Regions from separate parts of the Homo sapiens genome. Here region 2 is linked to region 1. A link means that fine-mapping ties the variant in region 1 to the expression of a gene that starts in the linked region. Tissue or cell type: whole blood. Region 1 holds a variant in brackets; the other region holds the start of a gene. All regions are shown on one strand. Distances are from middle to middle.

Region 1 (8,099 bases):
TCAGAGCCTCCCGGTCAGTTCCAGGCTGCAGCTGTCCAATGACAAGAGGACCCTCACTCTACTCAGTGTCACAAGGAATGACACAGGACCCTATGAGTGTGAAATACCGAACCCAGTGGGTGCCAGCTACAGTGACCCAGTCACGCTGAATGTCCTCTGTATCTTCTGTTCCTCTGTGGCCCAGGCTTCCAGCCCAAATCCACACAGCCAGAGGCCAGGCCTCTCAGTCCCTCTCAAGTCCAGGGACTCAGACTCTCACCCAGGCTGGCCATCACTTCCTGTCCCAAGCAAACCTGGGCAGACCCAGCCTTGACCAAGAATAGGAGGGGAGAGGCTGCTCCTGTCCTGGGAGGCTCAGGGTCCACAGCCTGTGATGGGAGAAACAGGTGAATATCTCAGACCCAGACTCAGTGGACAGATTGGGTTTCGTTAGGACTTCAAGGTTGTGACTTGGCTCACAGGGACACTGTGGCTCTTCCACAGACCAGGAGCTTCCCCTTCCCTTTGATGATATCATCTATGACTTTATTCTCGCTACTCCAGATGGACCGGGCATTCCCACCATTTCCCCCCCAGACTCCTATTACCATCCAGGGGCAAATCTCAACCTCTCCTGCCACATGGCCTCTAACCCACCTGCACAGTACTCCTGGTTTGTCAGTGGAATGCTCCAGCAACACACACAAAAGCTCTTTATCCCCAACATCGCAGTGGATAAGAGTGGATCCTATGCTTGCCTCGCCCATAACTCAGCCACTGGCCTCAGTACAATCACAGTCAAGACAATCACAGTCTCTGCTAAGTGGATCCCTGGAGCATAGGCCCTGAGCCCTGGGTAAAGCCACTCAGTTTTCTGAAAGAGCCTAGAAGTTTATTTCCCAGCCCATGTCTTGGACACAAGCAAATCCCAAACTCTACCCTGAGCCCTCTCACTCCACCTCTGCAGGACCCCTCCTCCCCTTGTTGTTCTGATTTCTCACAGCTGACCTTGGGGCCAGCCTGGAATGTTGTACAAATTTTGTTTTATCACTTACGAGTTCTGTGACCTTCCTTGACTTACTGAGGTGCTTTAAGTCTCAGATTCTAACTCTGCAGCTGGGGGTGATGCCCCCTCTCCCTCAAGGTGATGTAAGGATGAGATGAGTTGTAGGTAGGTTGGTGCCCACTGGAACTGGCACATGGAAGGCCCCTGAAAACAGTCAATGAACATCATCCCTGCTTATCAGCATTGAGTTGATGCCAAGGGCCTGCCCTTTGTGAGTGTCATGGGATGGAAAAGGAGAAACAGAGGGAAGAGGCATGATGCGAGAGGAAGGAGGGACTAAAAGGCACAGGAGCAGGGTGAGGTGCAGGCACCTCTGGGACAATGTATGAGTTGGTGCCGCCCAGTGTGTCAAGCCTGCAGAAAATGGTGCCACCATGGAAAGCAAGGGAATCTGTGATGAGGACAACACAAGAGACTACACTCAGGCCCCATGGCATCTCCTTCTTCCCTGACTGCACACCTTCCCTGCAAGGCCCCTGTGGTTTCCTCTGGGATAGACTTGGGCCTCTATCCCCTTTGCCTTCTTCTTTCTGCAGAAGAAAATGCCCCAGGCCTTCCTGTGGGGGCCGTCGCCGGCATCGTGACCGGGGTCCTGGTCGGAGTGGCGCTGGTGGCCGCGCTGGTGTGTTTCCTGCTCCTTGCCAAAACTGGAAGGTACCACAGCTTTTTCCCATCCTTCTCCCACCCCCTAGGCTGACTCCAGGCCAAAAGAAAGGAGACCTTGTCCTGTATTCAGGGCCAGGCTCTCCACGGCCTCCCAAGTCCCCAGGGATCCTTCCCTCTTATTCCACGGCTCCTCCCTCGTCAGCTCCTGACCCTGGGTTGCTGCCTCAACAGCTTCCTCCTCTGTGAATTTGGCCCAATTAAGGCCCCACCCCTGAGTGTGGCCCTAGTTCCCTCACACAGCAAAGCCACAGCTGCCTGGAGGGAGGGAGAGAAGGAGGGAGGGAAGTAGGGAGGGAGGGAGGGAGGGCGTGCTCTGTACTTGGTACCTCCCATTGTTCATTGAATCCATCCACACAGTGAGGGGGATTTGCAGGCTCCGGATCCTGGGCACCGTCACACAATGGGGAGTGGACCAGCCTGGACAGGCTGGGTGGGGTCAGTGCCCCCCATGGCTGATGTGGTAACCATAGGCCCTGAGGTGTGAGATGGGAGAACCTGGGCCTCAGAACAGCATGTCCTGGAGCGTCCTTTGTGTCTCTTGCCAAGGGGTTGAGAGAGAGGACAAGGACACTGTCCCATTTCAGCATCACCAGCCCTGAGTGCAGGGTCTGGCCACAGCAGGGACACTGAGTTCCAGGAGAATCCAAGACACTTGCGGTCCCCTCCGTGTCCTGCACACGTGGCCCTGCTTTGCCTCTGGGGACTTGACCCTTCCTCTCAGGCAAACCCTCGTGGTCTGTTTCCTTCCTTGGGTCCTCAGTCCCTTTCCTGGGTCCCTGGGTCAATGTTCTCCTGGCCCGGCATCTGCCTGAGGGTCCTTCCCCTCTGCTCAGGACAGATGTGGGTTCCTAAAGCCTTTCCTCAACTCCCCTCTGCTGGGCTCCCCCTAACACAAACCTGAGGGAGACAGGAGGTCTCCATGCCCATCCTTGAAAATGGGTTTCCCTTCTTGTCCCCTGTTCGAACTCCAAAGTTGTGGCTTTTAACCTGGCACCCTCCCAAATGACCCTGACCTTTCCTAGAACCAGCATCCAGCGTGACCTCAAGGAGCAGCAGCCCCAAGCCCTTGCCCCTGGTGAGTGTCCTCTCAGCCCAGGTGTGGCTGGGAACCCCTAGGACAGCCCCACAGTGTCCGCTCCTGCCAGTCACTGCCAGGCAGACTCTGATCCTTTCCCGGGGGCTGCAAGGAGGATCTCATAAAACATCACACAGGGGACCCCAATTGCTTGGGTCAGCCCTCACCTGTGGGCTCTGGGTCATGGGTCACCTCCCCAACCTCAGCTGCTCAGGTATCTTAGAGCTGAGGACCCCCTACGCCTTCCTGGAGAGGGGATAAGGCTCTCCTCCCACCCTGCTGCTCACTCCTGTCTCTGTTTCCAGGCCGTGGTCCCTCCCACAGCTCTGCCTTCTCGGTAAGCCTGTCCCCTTCCAGCCCCTTTCTACTGGGGTCCCAGCTGTGCAGGCTCTGGGCAGAGGGACCATCAGCCCCCCAGCACAGAACAGACCCACCTTCCCCCAAAACACACAGGACAAGGCTAGCCCTGCCCTGGCCAGGAGCTGGGCCTCCCTACAGGGTCAGGACCACCCACGCCCTGTGCTGACCCCTCCCCGGGACCCTCCATCACCTGAGGAGACCCCTGGAGTGCAGCAGGTGCAGAGTGGACACTGGGACCATCAGTCAGGGGCCCACATTAACAAGGGTGCAGGGTGGGCCCAGCCAGGAAAAGGGTCAGGGTGCTGTGTCCACACTGGGAGGCTGAGCTCAGGGGCAGAGCTGGTCACTCCTGAGGGGAAATGACCAGAAGTAAACACAGAGAAGTAAATCCTGGCCAATCAGAGACAGGAAACTTCCAGGCTGGGCCTCCATGACCCTCCCTCCCTGTCCACAGATGTCCCCTCTCTCCACTGCCCAGGCCCCCCTACCCAACCCCAGGACAGCAGCTTCCATCTATGAGGTGAGTGTGGGCCACGGATGTTCTGGTCCCACAGGCCCCAGGGGACCCAGGATCTTCCCCTACTGGCATCGGCTGAGCTCTGAGATTCAGGAAACTGCTGTGAAAATAAGAACGGGGGTGGCGAGCAGAGGAGGGAGGGGCTTGGGAGCAGGAACCCCCTGAGCACAGCCAGGTTCAGCCCCAGAGCAGCCCTGGATGGGCCCAGAGCCTGGGAGACGCCACACCCTGTTCTGAGGAGACTAGAGGGGTCCAGGCCTCTTCTCTGTTTTAACAGGAATTGCTAAAACATGACACAAACATTTACTGCCGGATGGACCACAAAGCAGAAGTGGCTTCTTAGCTTCCTCCAGGAGCTGCTCCTGTGTGTTGATGGAGAGTCCCCAAGGCCCCCAGCCCTGGGGATGGGGAAGGACATGAAGCCTGAGCCAGAGAACCAGCTATAAGTCCTGAGAAGACACTGGTGTCTGGGGGCAGGGAGGGATGGGGGTCCCTGATGAATATCTGGAGACCTCGACAGCCTGCCCTAGGCCCTGGGTGGGTCAGGACAAAGGCCTCTCATCACCGCAGAAAGCGGGGGCTTGCAGGGAAAGTGAATGGGCCTGTGGCCCACCTGGGGTCACTTGGAAAGGATCTGAATAAAGGGGACCCTTCCTCTCATTAGCTGTTTTTCTGCTAGTGGGAACTTAGCAAAAATTCGCCTGAAACTCCATATCCATTCTCTCCTGGGTCACACAAGGAAAATGTCATCTCCAACTTATTTCAACCCCAGTCTCTCTTCCCTGGGAGGCAGAAATAGGGGGTTGGGAGTCAGGCTGGGGTGGACCCTACACAGGAAAGGGCAGGATTCACAGGAG[A/C]CCTGCCCAGCCAGCTGAGCGCTTGGCTGTGCTCATACTGCCCCAGGGACCCACGGTGCCTAGCCCTGGCCACTGGGTTTCTTCTCTGTCCAAAAGGCCAGTGCTCAGGACATCTTTACCCATATCAGGGGACACACAGAGGGCCTGTCAGAGTAATCAAGGTGAGGACAGACCCAGAATTTAGTCCTGGAGTAAAATCCTCCCAGACACTACCTGGGACTCTAGCCCATCATTTCCCATCAGTTCCCACTTTACCCCCTGGAGTGGATCTCACTGAACAATCCTCCACTCCACACAGGAGATTCCAGGTCAGAGACACAGGGCTCTCTCACCTAAAGCTCACGCAGTCTACCATGGCAATGGGACAACCTCTCTCCTCTTCTCCCTGGCCTGCAGGGCCCTCCACTCAGGCCTCACCAGCAGCTCCACCACATACCTGGGCCGGCAGTTCTCTGTCCCTCCTGAGGGCCCTGGGGAGTGTAATGATCTCATGTAGGTTCACTCAGACCAGGTGTCCCCTTCCCACAATCAGGCTGGTCCCTGCACTAAAGCACAGAGCCACGGTTCCTGAGGGTATTCTGCCACTGCCCAGGGTTGTTTGCCATGAGATGGGAAGTAGGAAAAACAACCTGCAAATTTACATCAGGATTTAGCTCTAAATGACTCCTTACCTCACTTGTACACATCGTCAGATGAGACAAGGTGATGTCTCTTGTGTCAGTTTCCTGTTGATGCTGTGACAAATTCCCACAGGCCAGGCATGTTGGTTTGTGTCTTGGTCCCACTTACTCAAGAGGCTGAGGCAGGAGGATCGCTTGAGCCCAGGAGGTTGAGGCTGCAGTGAGCTCTGATCACACCACTGCACGCTGGCCTAGGCAACAGAGATGACAACTCCATTGTTAACTTAGTGGCATAAAACAACAACGTGTCCACTTGGCTGTGTTCTTCCTGGCAGCTCCAGGGAAAAGTCTGTTCCCTCACCTTTTCCAATTACTAGAGGCCGCCTGCATCCTTAACTTTGGCCCCTTCCTCCATCTTCAAAGCGAGCAGTACAGCATCTTGAAACCTCTCTGTGCTCTGCTTCCATCCTCACTGACTTCCCCGCCTCCCTGTCTCACTTGTATGGTTATTTTGGACCCACCTGGATAAACCACAATAATCTCCCCATCTCATCATCCTTCATTTATCTGCTAAGTGTCTTTGACCATGTGCCATATTCACAGATCTTGGGATGAGGATGTGTGCATCTTTGAGAGGGGCTTGTTCTATCCATCTCTCCTCTCAAGGCCATTTTATCATGATTGTTCACTACAAAGTACACATGGGCACCTGGATAGGGTTATCCTGACTGTGGCATCAGTTTTTGCAGTGACGTCCCAGCACCCTCCAGGTCCTGAGAGAGGGAGACGGAGGGCTCTCCATGCCCCTAGTACCTCTCCACCTTCTCCTCGGTGACAAGCTTAGTTGTTAAGAATAAAAGAGATGTGTCTGGGCGTGGTGGCTCACACCTGTAATCCCAGCACTTTGGGAGGCCGAGGCAGGCAGATCACCTGAGGTCAGGAGTTCGAGACCAGCCTGACCAACATGGCGAAACCCTGGCTCTACTAAAATTACAAAAATTAGCTGCACGTGCTGGCGCACGCCCATAATCCCAGCTACTCTGGAGGCTGAGGCAGGAGAATCACTTGAACCTGGGAGGTGGAGGTTGCTGTGAGCCAAAATAATGCCACTGCACTCCAGCCTGGGTGACAGAGTGAGACTCCATCTCAAAAAAAAAAAAAAAAAAAAAAAAAGAAAAGAAAAGAAAAGAAAAACAAAGAATAAAAGAGATGTGACTGGAAGATCACAACTCACCAGCCCTTCAATCGTTCATGGACATCAGCACCATGGATAGTGACCACGGAAGGGTCATCCCCAGGCACTGCAGCAGGGAGCGCACAGATGGAAAGAAACTGCCGGGAAAAGCTGCCCAGTCTATTCTGCCTGAGAAAGACACAATGAGGGAGAACCTGATTCTTCTCTAATTTATTTGTTGTGAGCCCTGTGCACATGACTAAATGTTAGGGTTGTTGGCAAAGGTTGTTGACGCCCCTGGCAGGGCTGATTTCTGTACCCAAAGTATGACCTTGGAGAGGCTGAGTCTGCTCTGGTTTCCCAGTGAATGTCCCTACCTCTGAGACTCAAGCCATTGTCTCTGCCTACAACACAGTGGGAACTTTTCATGATTAACTTCCGACCCCCGTGCCTGACCTTGGAACCACTACCATCACCCAGCCTGGAGCACTGCCTGAGCACAGCATCCTGTTCCCTGAGCTCCAGCTAAGCCCCTGGGAAGCTGAGCTGAACCGAGCCCCTGAACAATCCTCTCAGTGACTCCAGGCCAGGCCTCGTGCCCCATGTCAGAGGCCTTTGCCATCTGCCAGTCCTTCCCACACAATCCTCCTGAGGGACAAGTGGAGGCCTGAACATCTGTCTCCCAGGGTAGGGCCCAACTTCTCCAGGAGACAAAAACAGACCAGAGTCCTCCCAGTCACCCTCACCCTCCTCATTCCCACCACTTCCCACCCACAGAGGCAACTCTGGTCCTACAGACCCACCCCTGCCCTTCCCAAGAGCTCAGGTCCAGTCAATCAGTGTCCCTGCAGGTCACACACACACACCACTCAGAGTGCTCAGTGGAAGGGTCACTCAGGTCCCCACCGAGAGTCTCCCGTGCTTTGGATGGGTCAGAATCCTCTTCACATCCCACATCTGGGCAGTCAACAAGGTCTTCTCTGCACTGTCCTCGCACCTACAGTGTCTGTCTTGGTCATCCTCGTCATCTTTTCTGAGCACGGCCACAGCTCCTAACAAGTGGGGTTAAGGCTCCTGACAGATAGGGTTAAGGCATAGGACCGTGATTCTGAGGGCTTCTCAGGTCTTGCCTGTTATGTGAAATTAGCATGTACAACACATAGAATTTGTATGTTTACCTCATAATTTTAATGTGCACACCCTTTGATCATTAATTAGTCACATTAAGAAGAGCCTCCCCTGAATCGTGAGTTCTAAGGAGGCAGGAGTACACCTGTCCTGGTCTCTGCTAAGTCCAGTGACAAGCACCCAGTCTGGCACAAGGATGCTTCATAAATACATGTGGAATAAATGAGATCCTCTTACACCCTGCTCACTTCCCTGACTTATGTGACCAGACGGAAACTCCTAATGTACAGGAGAGAAAGGCAGAAATGCTGGAGACCAGCGAGAAAGCTGTTTTTTGAAAGAGCAGCAAGTTCCAGGCCTCTAAAGATACTTCTGGACTTTACGTGGTGCAGAGAAAAAGACAAAACCAATACATTCCCTTCAAACCACTAAAGTGGGTGGGGCCATAGCCTAACTGAGAAAGAAAAAGACCAAGGTAGGGTACAGTTCCCCTAACCCACTTTGTTTCCAGACATCAAAAAATACAGTTTGTGGTCTTGGACTCTGATGTGGAAAAAGTACAAACCAAAAATTGTGTTACCACTAATTTCCTTGCTATGAGCAGTCATGAAATATCAATGTACAACCATACATGCAAAGATACAAATTCAAACAGCA
Region 2 (8,086 bases), 34 kb after region 1:
AAAGAATGGAAATAAGGATGATAGCAGAAATCAATGAAATAGTAAACAACAACAAACATTATTACAAAAAAGATCCATTCTATGAAAAGATTTAGTTAGTTCGCTGGCAAATCTGATCAAGGGAGAAGATGCAGGCCGGCACAGTGGCTCATGCCTCTAATCCCAGTGCTTTGGGAGGCTGAGCCAGGAGGATCCCTTGAGGTCAGGAGTTCAAGACCAGCCTGGGCAACACAGTGGCTTATGCCGGTAATTCCAGTGCTTTGGGAGGCTGAGCCAGGACTGCTCGAGGTCAGCAATTTGAGACCAGCCTGGGCAACACCTTGTCTATACCAAAAAAAAAAAAAAGTTTAAAAATTAGCCAAGCATGGGAGTGCCTGTAGTCCCAGCTACTCAGGAGGCTAATGTTGAAGGATTGCTTTAGCCTCAAATCACAAGGTCAGGAGTTCGCGACCAGCCTGGCCAACAAGGTGAAACACTGTCTCTACTACAAATACAAAAATTAGCCCGGTGTGGTGGTACGTGCCTGCAGTCCCAGCTACTAGGGAGGCTGAGGAGGGAGGATCACTTGAACCCGGAAGCCAGAGGTTGCAGTGAGCCGAGATCATGCCACTGCACTCCAGCCTGGGCAATAGAACAAGACCCTGTCTCAAAAAAAAAAAAAAAAAAAAAGTGAAGAAATGCACAAACCCAGCAATAACCAAGGAAATGCAATCTGTCAAATTGTACATCTATCAGACTGGTAAGGATCAGAAAGCTGGGAAAAGACAAGTGTTGGCAGGTATGTGGGGATAAAGGAACCCTTGGCCCCTGATGCTCATGGCATTATTTGGAGGGCTGGGGAATAAAACACTATTTCTGGACTCTGAGAAACAAAGGAGTTGAGAGTTCTGACCAGGATCTCAGGCCCAAAGCAGCATTGCAGGGGTCTGACACTACATGGTCAAATTGGGTTTATAAATACCCATTTCCAGTATACCCTACATAGGTATTACAAAAATGTCCACCTTCATCTACAAAGGAACATGCACAATAATGCAGCATTTTTTTTTTCTGAGACTGGGTCTCGCTCTGTTGCCCAGGCTGGAGGACAGCTGTGCTCACTGCAGCCCCCACCTGCCAGGCTCATGCAATCCTCTCACCTCGGCCACCCAAATAGCTGGGACTACAGGTGTGCGCCAACACACCCAGCTTTGTAGAGATGGAGTTTTTCCATGTTGCCCCAGCTGTTATCAAACTCCTGGGCTCAAGCAATCCACCCACCTCGGCCTCCCAAAGTGCTGGGATTACAGGCATGAGCTCCCATGCCCAGAGAATGCAGCATTATTGTGGTGATGGTAGGTTGAGACAATGGGAGCTTCCCTCTCTGAGACCAAGTGAATGCAAAACATGCTGGGGATGTACGCTATGGAATATCACGCAGGAGTTGGAAGAAGTTGATTAGATGTACACAGGATGTGAGGCAGGGTACAGTGGCTCACGCCTGTAATCCCAGCACTTCGGGAGGCTGAGGTGGGCGGATCACCTGAGGTCAGGAGTTCAAGACCAAGCTGGTCAACATGGCAAAATCCTGACTCTACTAAAAATACAAAAATTAGTCGAGTGTGGTGGTGGGAGCCTGTAATCCCAGCTACTCAAGAGGCTGTGGCAGCAGAAGAATTGCTTGAACCCAGGAGGTGGAGGGTGCAGTAAGCCAAGATCACACCATTGCACTCCAGCCTGGGCAATAAGAGTGAAACTCCGTCTAAACAAAAAAAAAAAAAAAAAAAAAAAAAAAAAAAAGTACACATCATGACAGAATGACAGAATGTGTACATGGATAGATTGTAAAATCACAGTGCTGATTATTACAAATAGTATATAACATAATATCACTTGCATAAATTAAAAACTCAAACAGAGGTCGGGTGTGGTCGTTCATGCCTGTGATCCCAGCACTTTGGGAGGCCAAGGCAGACAGATCACTTCAGGCCAGGAGTTCTGGACCAGCCTGGTTAATATGGCAAAACCCCATCGCTAAAAAAAAAAAAAAAAAAAAAAAAAAAAAAAAAAAAAAAAAAAAACCCCAACAACAACACTACACACATCCTGGGAGAACACACACACAAACCAAAAGATACATATTAACCACCTTAGAATGAGAATTGCCTATAAGAAGGTTAGGGAATGAAAGTGGGGAATTGGTGGAAAATAACAGTGTAGGAGGGGGTACAAAGATCACTGACCTTGGCCTCAGAGACCCAGGTTGGAATCTTTACCCCTTCATTTACTAGCTGTCCAATTTGTTGAACTCAGAGCCTACTACCTTCTTTATAAAATGAAGTATAATACATCTCATAGGGTCATTGTGAAGATCAATAAAATTATTACCATAAGTATTAGGCAAATGCTAAGCTCTTTATAATCGTTGGTTACCCTGTTCCTCTACCACTATCCCTCCCTCCCACACACACTTCCTCTCACTCTCTCTCCACTACCTAAAGGATCAAGTTCAACCTCTTTAGCTGGCCTTTAAGCCTCCCCCGACCACACCCCACCCCACCCCAGATAAGCGCCACCCAACCTTTCCAATTTTATCTAGGACAGCTCCCCTGCCCAGCAGTCCAGCTAGAGGTCACGTCGGCCACCCTTTTCTGCCTGCAATGCCTCAGACACACATGCTCTGTAACCCAGAAATCTGTGGCCAAGAAAGGTGCCAAGACCCGCAGAAAAGCTGGGACACAGGAAAGAGAAACGAAGGCTGACAACAGATCTCACGGGGGTGAGGGAGATTAGGCCAATCAGAGAAGACAGCACACGCCAGCCTCAGATGCAGAACAACTGGACCTGGACCTAACAAGCTGAGTACAAGTGGAGACGCAACCAGAAAAGATTGAAGTGAAATCCTCAAGCAAAAAAAAAAAAAAAAAAAAAAAAAAAAAGGATGGAGCAGTAGTCAGAGGGGATGCCACCCCTACAAAAGACAAACAAATTGATGGAATGGAACCTTGCAGGGAGAGAGAGGACCAGCAGAGAGAGGGAGGCGTAGGAAAATGAGGAGTGGGGCACAAAGGTGGGGCTCTCAGGGAGAAGAGGAGTCGATTTTAGAGGGGGAGAAGAAAAGGACACAGAGCTGGCTGTACAGAGAAAAGGGGCCAAGGCAGAGAAGATGGCGGGATGGTGTGAGACGGAGTTCACAGAAATACCCAGAGAAGGCGACGATTACACAGAGGAGCCCCCAGAGGGGCGAACTCTTGAGGAAGATGAACGCGGAGGGTGGAGCCAGCCAGAAATTCAGAAAAACTAGAGGCGTCCCCGGTAGCGAAGGAAGCCGGGAAGGGGCCAGGCTATCAGGGCATGAAGCACGGGAGAAAATGGGTCCGAAGAGGGAGAGCGTCCGAGAGAAAAGGAAAATCAGAGATTAGGAAAATCACAACCGACACAAAGACAAGAAGAGACACAAGGAAAGGGGTGCAATCTGAGGAAGGAGGGCCCGGTAAGCAACCCGGTAATCACAGCGCTGGGAGAGAACGCATAAAAGAAGGGTAGCTCAGGAGTTGTGGGGCACCGGAAGAGACATAACAGAAAACGCAGGCCTCCACTCAGCAAAAACAAGCCACGCGCGAAGTCGAGGTACAAGGCAAGGGAAGGCCAGAAACGAGGCAACCCGTGCACAGACCGGGCTTGGTCAACGCCCCAGGGGCGGGGCCAGGCGGGCCGTTCCTGGGGGGCGGGGCCAGCCTCGGTCCAATAAGGGGTACTCGACGCCCCATTGGCCACCTGCCTCGAAAGGGGGAAGACAGTCTGGGCGGGCAGGACGTGCGGAGGGAGAGGCAGCGGTGGCGCGAGGCTCAACTCGAAGCGCTATTGGTGGGACTGATAGTCTTGTGCGCCAAGAAGCTGGCAGAAGGGAAGGGGCGGGACATCAGTTCAGGATCTCAAACCGCATTGGTCGTCTGCCTCGGCTGAGAGAGGCGATGCTTGAAGTTCATTGGTCTTTGTGAGACAGGGTAAGAAAAGCAGCGCGAGCTTGGCGGTTCCTCTGGCCACTTTCTCACAGTGTCTTTGGGCGTCTTCTTGACTGAATCTGACTCCATTGGAGGCTGTGGTAACCGTGAACTAGCTGCACGAACACGGTCCCTCCTGCCTTTCCGTCCTCCTCCCTCTTAGCCGGACTCCCTAACCCAGGCATCCCCTCTCCTCCCCCTCGCGCCCCTCCCGCCCTCGCGCCCCCTCTCCCCTTCCCTGCCTCGCGGGCCCCTTGGCGCGTTCCCGGTTCCCCACTCGCTCCCTGGGGCACGGGAAGGGGGGAGGGGGACATGCATGAAATTAATTGTTGGTAGTGGCCACAGGAGCAGGAAGCGCTGGACACAGTGACTTCACATGTTTACACAAAAACCTGAATAAGGTGTGAGCGCAAGAGAGACATTAGTGCCCCAAGGAGAAGGTTTTTGGCCCAGATCAGGGCCTAGCACATGACAGGGGCTCAGTAACCATTTGTGGAATGAATGAAGGAGTGAAGGAAAATAACTTGAAAGTGGGGCAGGTGGCGGGTGCGGTGGCTCATGCCTGTAATCCCAACACTTTGGGAGGCCGAAGCAGGCAGGTCGCTTGAGGCAGGTCAGGAGTTCAAGACCAGCCTGGCCAACATGGTGAAACCCCATCTCTACTAAAAATACAAAAATTAGACGGGCGTGGTGGCACAGGCCTGTAATCCCAGGTACTCGGGAGGCTGAGGCAGGAGAATTGCTTGAACCCAGGAGGCGGAGGTTGCAGTGAGCCGGGATTGCACTACTGCACTACAGCCTGGGCTACAGAGTGAGACTCCATCTCAAAACAAAAAAAAAGAAAGAAAGAAAGTGGGACAGGGGAGCCAAGCATAGTGGCTCCAGCCTGTAGTCCCAGCTACTGGGGAGGCTGCGGCAGGAGGATTGCTTGAGCTCAGGAGGTGGAGGCTGCAGTGAGCCATGATCACGCCACTGCGCTCCAGCCTGGGCAACAGAGCGAGACCCTGTCAATAAAAAAAAAAAGAAAGTGGAGCAGGGAATCCATGAGAATAAGGTAATTATTGGGGGTGCAAGAGAGGGTTCTGATTTAAAGGGGTACAAGAACAAAATAAGACTAAAGGAATGCAAGGAGGCAGTTGCTTTGCAGGGCATAGATGAGACTAAGAATTGAAATTGAACTAAGAATTGAAAGGGGCATAAAACTACTGGTAGGCATTGGATGAATGCATGAGAGTGGGGTGAGCATTGTTGAAGAGGATGCCAGGAAACACTGTTGGGACGGAACAGGGTGCTTGTGAAAAGGGGATGTAGGACTCGCTGAAGGGGTATGTGAGGACATGAGTAGGTTGGAACCTAGGATGTGTGTGTGGGTGGGAAAGTGTTTGGATTGAAAGAAAAGAATGTTTGAATTGAAAGAATACAGAATGTCGGGCGCAGCAGCTCATGCCTCTGATCCTAGCACTGTGGGAGGCCAAGGCAGGAGGATCGCTTGAGCCCAGGAGTTCGAGACCAGACCAGCCTGGGAAACATAATGAGACCTTGTCTCTATAAAAATAAAAAACAATTAAAAAAAAATTTTTTTTTTGAGACAGAGTCTTGCTCCGTCACCCAGGCTAAAGTGCAGTGGCGCGATCATGGCTCACTGCCAGCTCTGCCTCCCGGGTTCACGCCATTCTCCTGCCTCAGCCTCTGGAGTAGCTGGGACTACAGGCACCCGCCACCACGCCCAGCTAATTTTTTGTATTTTTAGTAGAGACAGGGTTTCACTGTGTTAGCCAGGATGGTCTCGATCTCCTGACCTTGTGATCCACCCGCCTTGGCCTCCCAAAGTGCTGGGATTATAGGCTTGAGCCACCGCACCCGGCCTAAAAATTTTTAAATTAAAAAAAGGGGGGACGGGTGCAGTGGCTCATGGCTGTAATTCCAGCACTTTGGGAGGCCGAGACAGGCAGATCACTTGAGGCCAGGAGTTCGAGACCAGCCTGGCCAACATGGTGAAACACCATCTCTACTAAACATACAAAAATAAAAAAAAATAGCCGGGCATGGTGGCTCTTGCCTGTAATCCCAGCTACTCAGGAGGCTGAGGCAGGAGAATCGCTTGAACCCGGGAGGTGGAGGTTGCAGCAAGCCAAGATCGTGCCACTGCACTCCAGCCTGGGAGACAGAGTGAGACTCCATCTCAAAAAAAAAAAAAAAAAAAAAGAAAGAACACAGAAGAGGAAGAGGAGAGGGGTTTCTGAAGAAGGAAGATACCTGAGAAATGTCATGGGGTAAAGAGGGGAGAAAGCTGGGAAAGAAGCCAGAATCAGGGCGGGGTCTAAAGAGGGGCAGGATGGAGACCTGCAGGTGTGGTCTCCAGGGCAGGAGGGTTGTTAGGGGCAGGCCCACCTGGCTATGCTTACCTTCCACTCCTGCCCCTAGATCCATGGAACCCAGTGACATGCCTGCTGGCTACCACTGCCCCTTAGACTCTGCCCCCTGGGATGAGACCAGAGACCCCCAGAGCACAGAGCTGATCCCCAGGAGAGCCATCAGCCGCTCTCCAACCTGCGCCCGCTGCCGCAACCATGGTGTCACCGCCCATCTCAAGGGCCACAAGCGCCTCTGCCTCTTCCAGGCTTGCGAGTGTCACAAATGTGTCCTCATCCTGTGAGTATGAGGTCTGGGAGGGGAGGAGGATGAGCCTCCTCCAAAGGGTGGCTGACCTTTGACTTGCAACTCCCCACTTTTAGGGAGCGCCGCAGGGTCATGGCTGCCCAGGTGGCCTTGCGTAGGCAGCAGGAGGCGCAGCTAAAGAAGCACCTGATGAGGAGAGGGGAAGCCTCTCCCAAAGCTCCCAACCACTTCAGAAAGGGAACCACTCAGCCACAGGTCCCCTGTGAGTGTCTCTGACCAGCGATGGGGCAGGAGTTTGGGTACAGGAGGCAGGTATGGGAAAAAGAGGCCCAGTCCTGCTGCTGAATTGGTGTACGACCTTGAACTAAGGGTTTCTACTCCCTCGGCCTCAGCTGTCCCAGCGTTGAGAGAATGCAGCGAGTTCTGTGGGTCAAAAATGGGCTAGAGGCCGGGCACAGTGGCTCACGCCTGTAATCCGAGCACTTTGGGAGGCTGAGGCAGGCAGACCACGAGGTCAAGAGATCGAGACCATCCTGGCCAACATGGTGAAACCCCGTCTCTACTAAAAATACAAAAATTAGCTGGGCTTGGTGGCGCATGCCTGTAGTCCCAGCTACTCGGGAAGCTGAGGCAGGAGAATCACTTGAACCCAGGAGGCGGAGGTTGTAGTGAGCCAAGATCACGCCACTGCACTCCAGCCTGGGCGACACAGCAAGACTCCATCTCAAAAAAAAAAAATGAGCTAGATGGGGGAGATGAGAACTGTCTGGGGTTGGGGTAGGATAGGGGTCAGGAGAAAGGGCTCATTAGAGCTCTCCCTGGTCCTTCACAGCTGGAAAGGAGAACATAGCACCCCAGCCTCAGACCCCCCATGGGGCAGTCCTGCTGGCACCGACACCCCCCGGGAAGGTAAGGAGAGGCTGGGGCCTGAGAAAGTGTCCCCCACCCTAGTTCCTACCCAGACCCTTTCTTCTGTGCCCTCAACACCTGGGTTCTAGCCCCAGCCCTGGTTTGCTATGTAATCTAGTCAAATCACTGCTCTTCTCTAGGCAAAATGAGGGGAAAACGAGGGCCTCCCAGCCCCAAAGTTTTGGGGTTCTGCCCGTATCCCAGAATACACTCAATCCTTTTCCAGCCTTGTACCCAACTCCAGCCTGTGCCCTCTGCCCCTGCAGAACTCCTGTGGGCCTCTGCTGCTCAGCCATCCCCCGGAAGCCTCGCCCTTGTCCTGGACTCCGGTGCCTCCTGGCCCTTGGGTCCCTGGACACTGGCTGCCTCCAGGCTTCTCCATGCCACCACCAGTGGTGTGCCGCCTGCTGTACCAAGAACCTGCTGTCTCTCTGCCTCCCTTCCCTGGTAAGATGATAATTCAACATTCATTCAACATATATTTGAGTGCCAATCTGCCACATATTGGAGAGGGAAGAGGAAGAAAGCATAGGTGGGGAGAGGGAGGAAAGAAACTATGACCTTGGCCCCTATAC

What was found. PIP is the estimated chance that this variant, and not a neighbour inherited with it, causes the effect.
Region 2: it holds the start of DMRTC2, and the variant in region 1 is fine-mapped to the expression of DMRTC2 in whole blood (TOPMed, PIP above 0.99).

What each region holds. Positions count from the first base shown.
Region 1 is chr19:41,807,232-41,815,330 of GRCh38, forward strand. It overlaps CEACAM3 (CEA cell adhesion molecule 3), which reads left to right. Exons shown (of 7, transcript NM_001815.5): 3 at 1,582-1,699; 4 at 2,734-2,786; 5 at 3,092-3,123; 6 at 3,601-3,666; 7 at 3,941-4,323. The coding sequence ends at 4,006. It also overlaps the pseudogene LOC100422623. Among named protein-coding and RNA genes, the nearest start is that of CEACAM3, 15 kb to the left of the region's middle. The variant A/C (reference allele first, on the strand shown) is at 4,521.
Region 2 is chr19:41,841,018-41,849,103 of GRCh38, forward strand. DMRTC2 (DMRT like family C2) reads left to right here and starts at 4,025. Exons shown (of 9, transcript NM_001040283.3): 1 at 4,025-4,084; 2 at 6,408-6,635; 3 at 6,719-6,864; 4 at 7,435-7,511; 5 at 7,778-7,958. The coding sequence starts at 6,412. It overlaps LYPD4 (LY6/PLAUR domain containing 4), which reads right to left and starts at 3,666. Exons shown (of 5, transcript NM_173506.7): 1 at 2,561-3,666.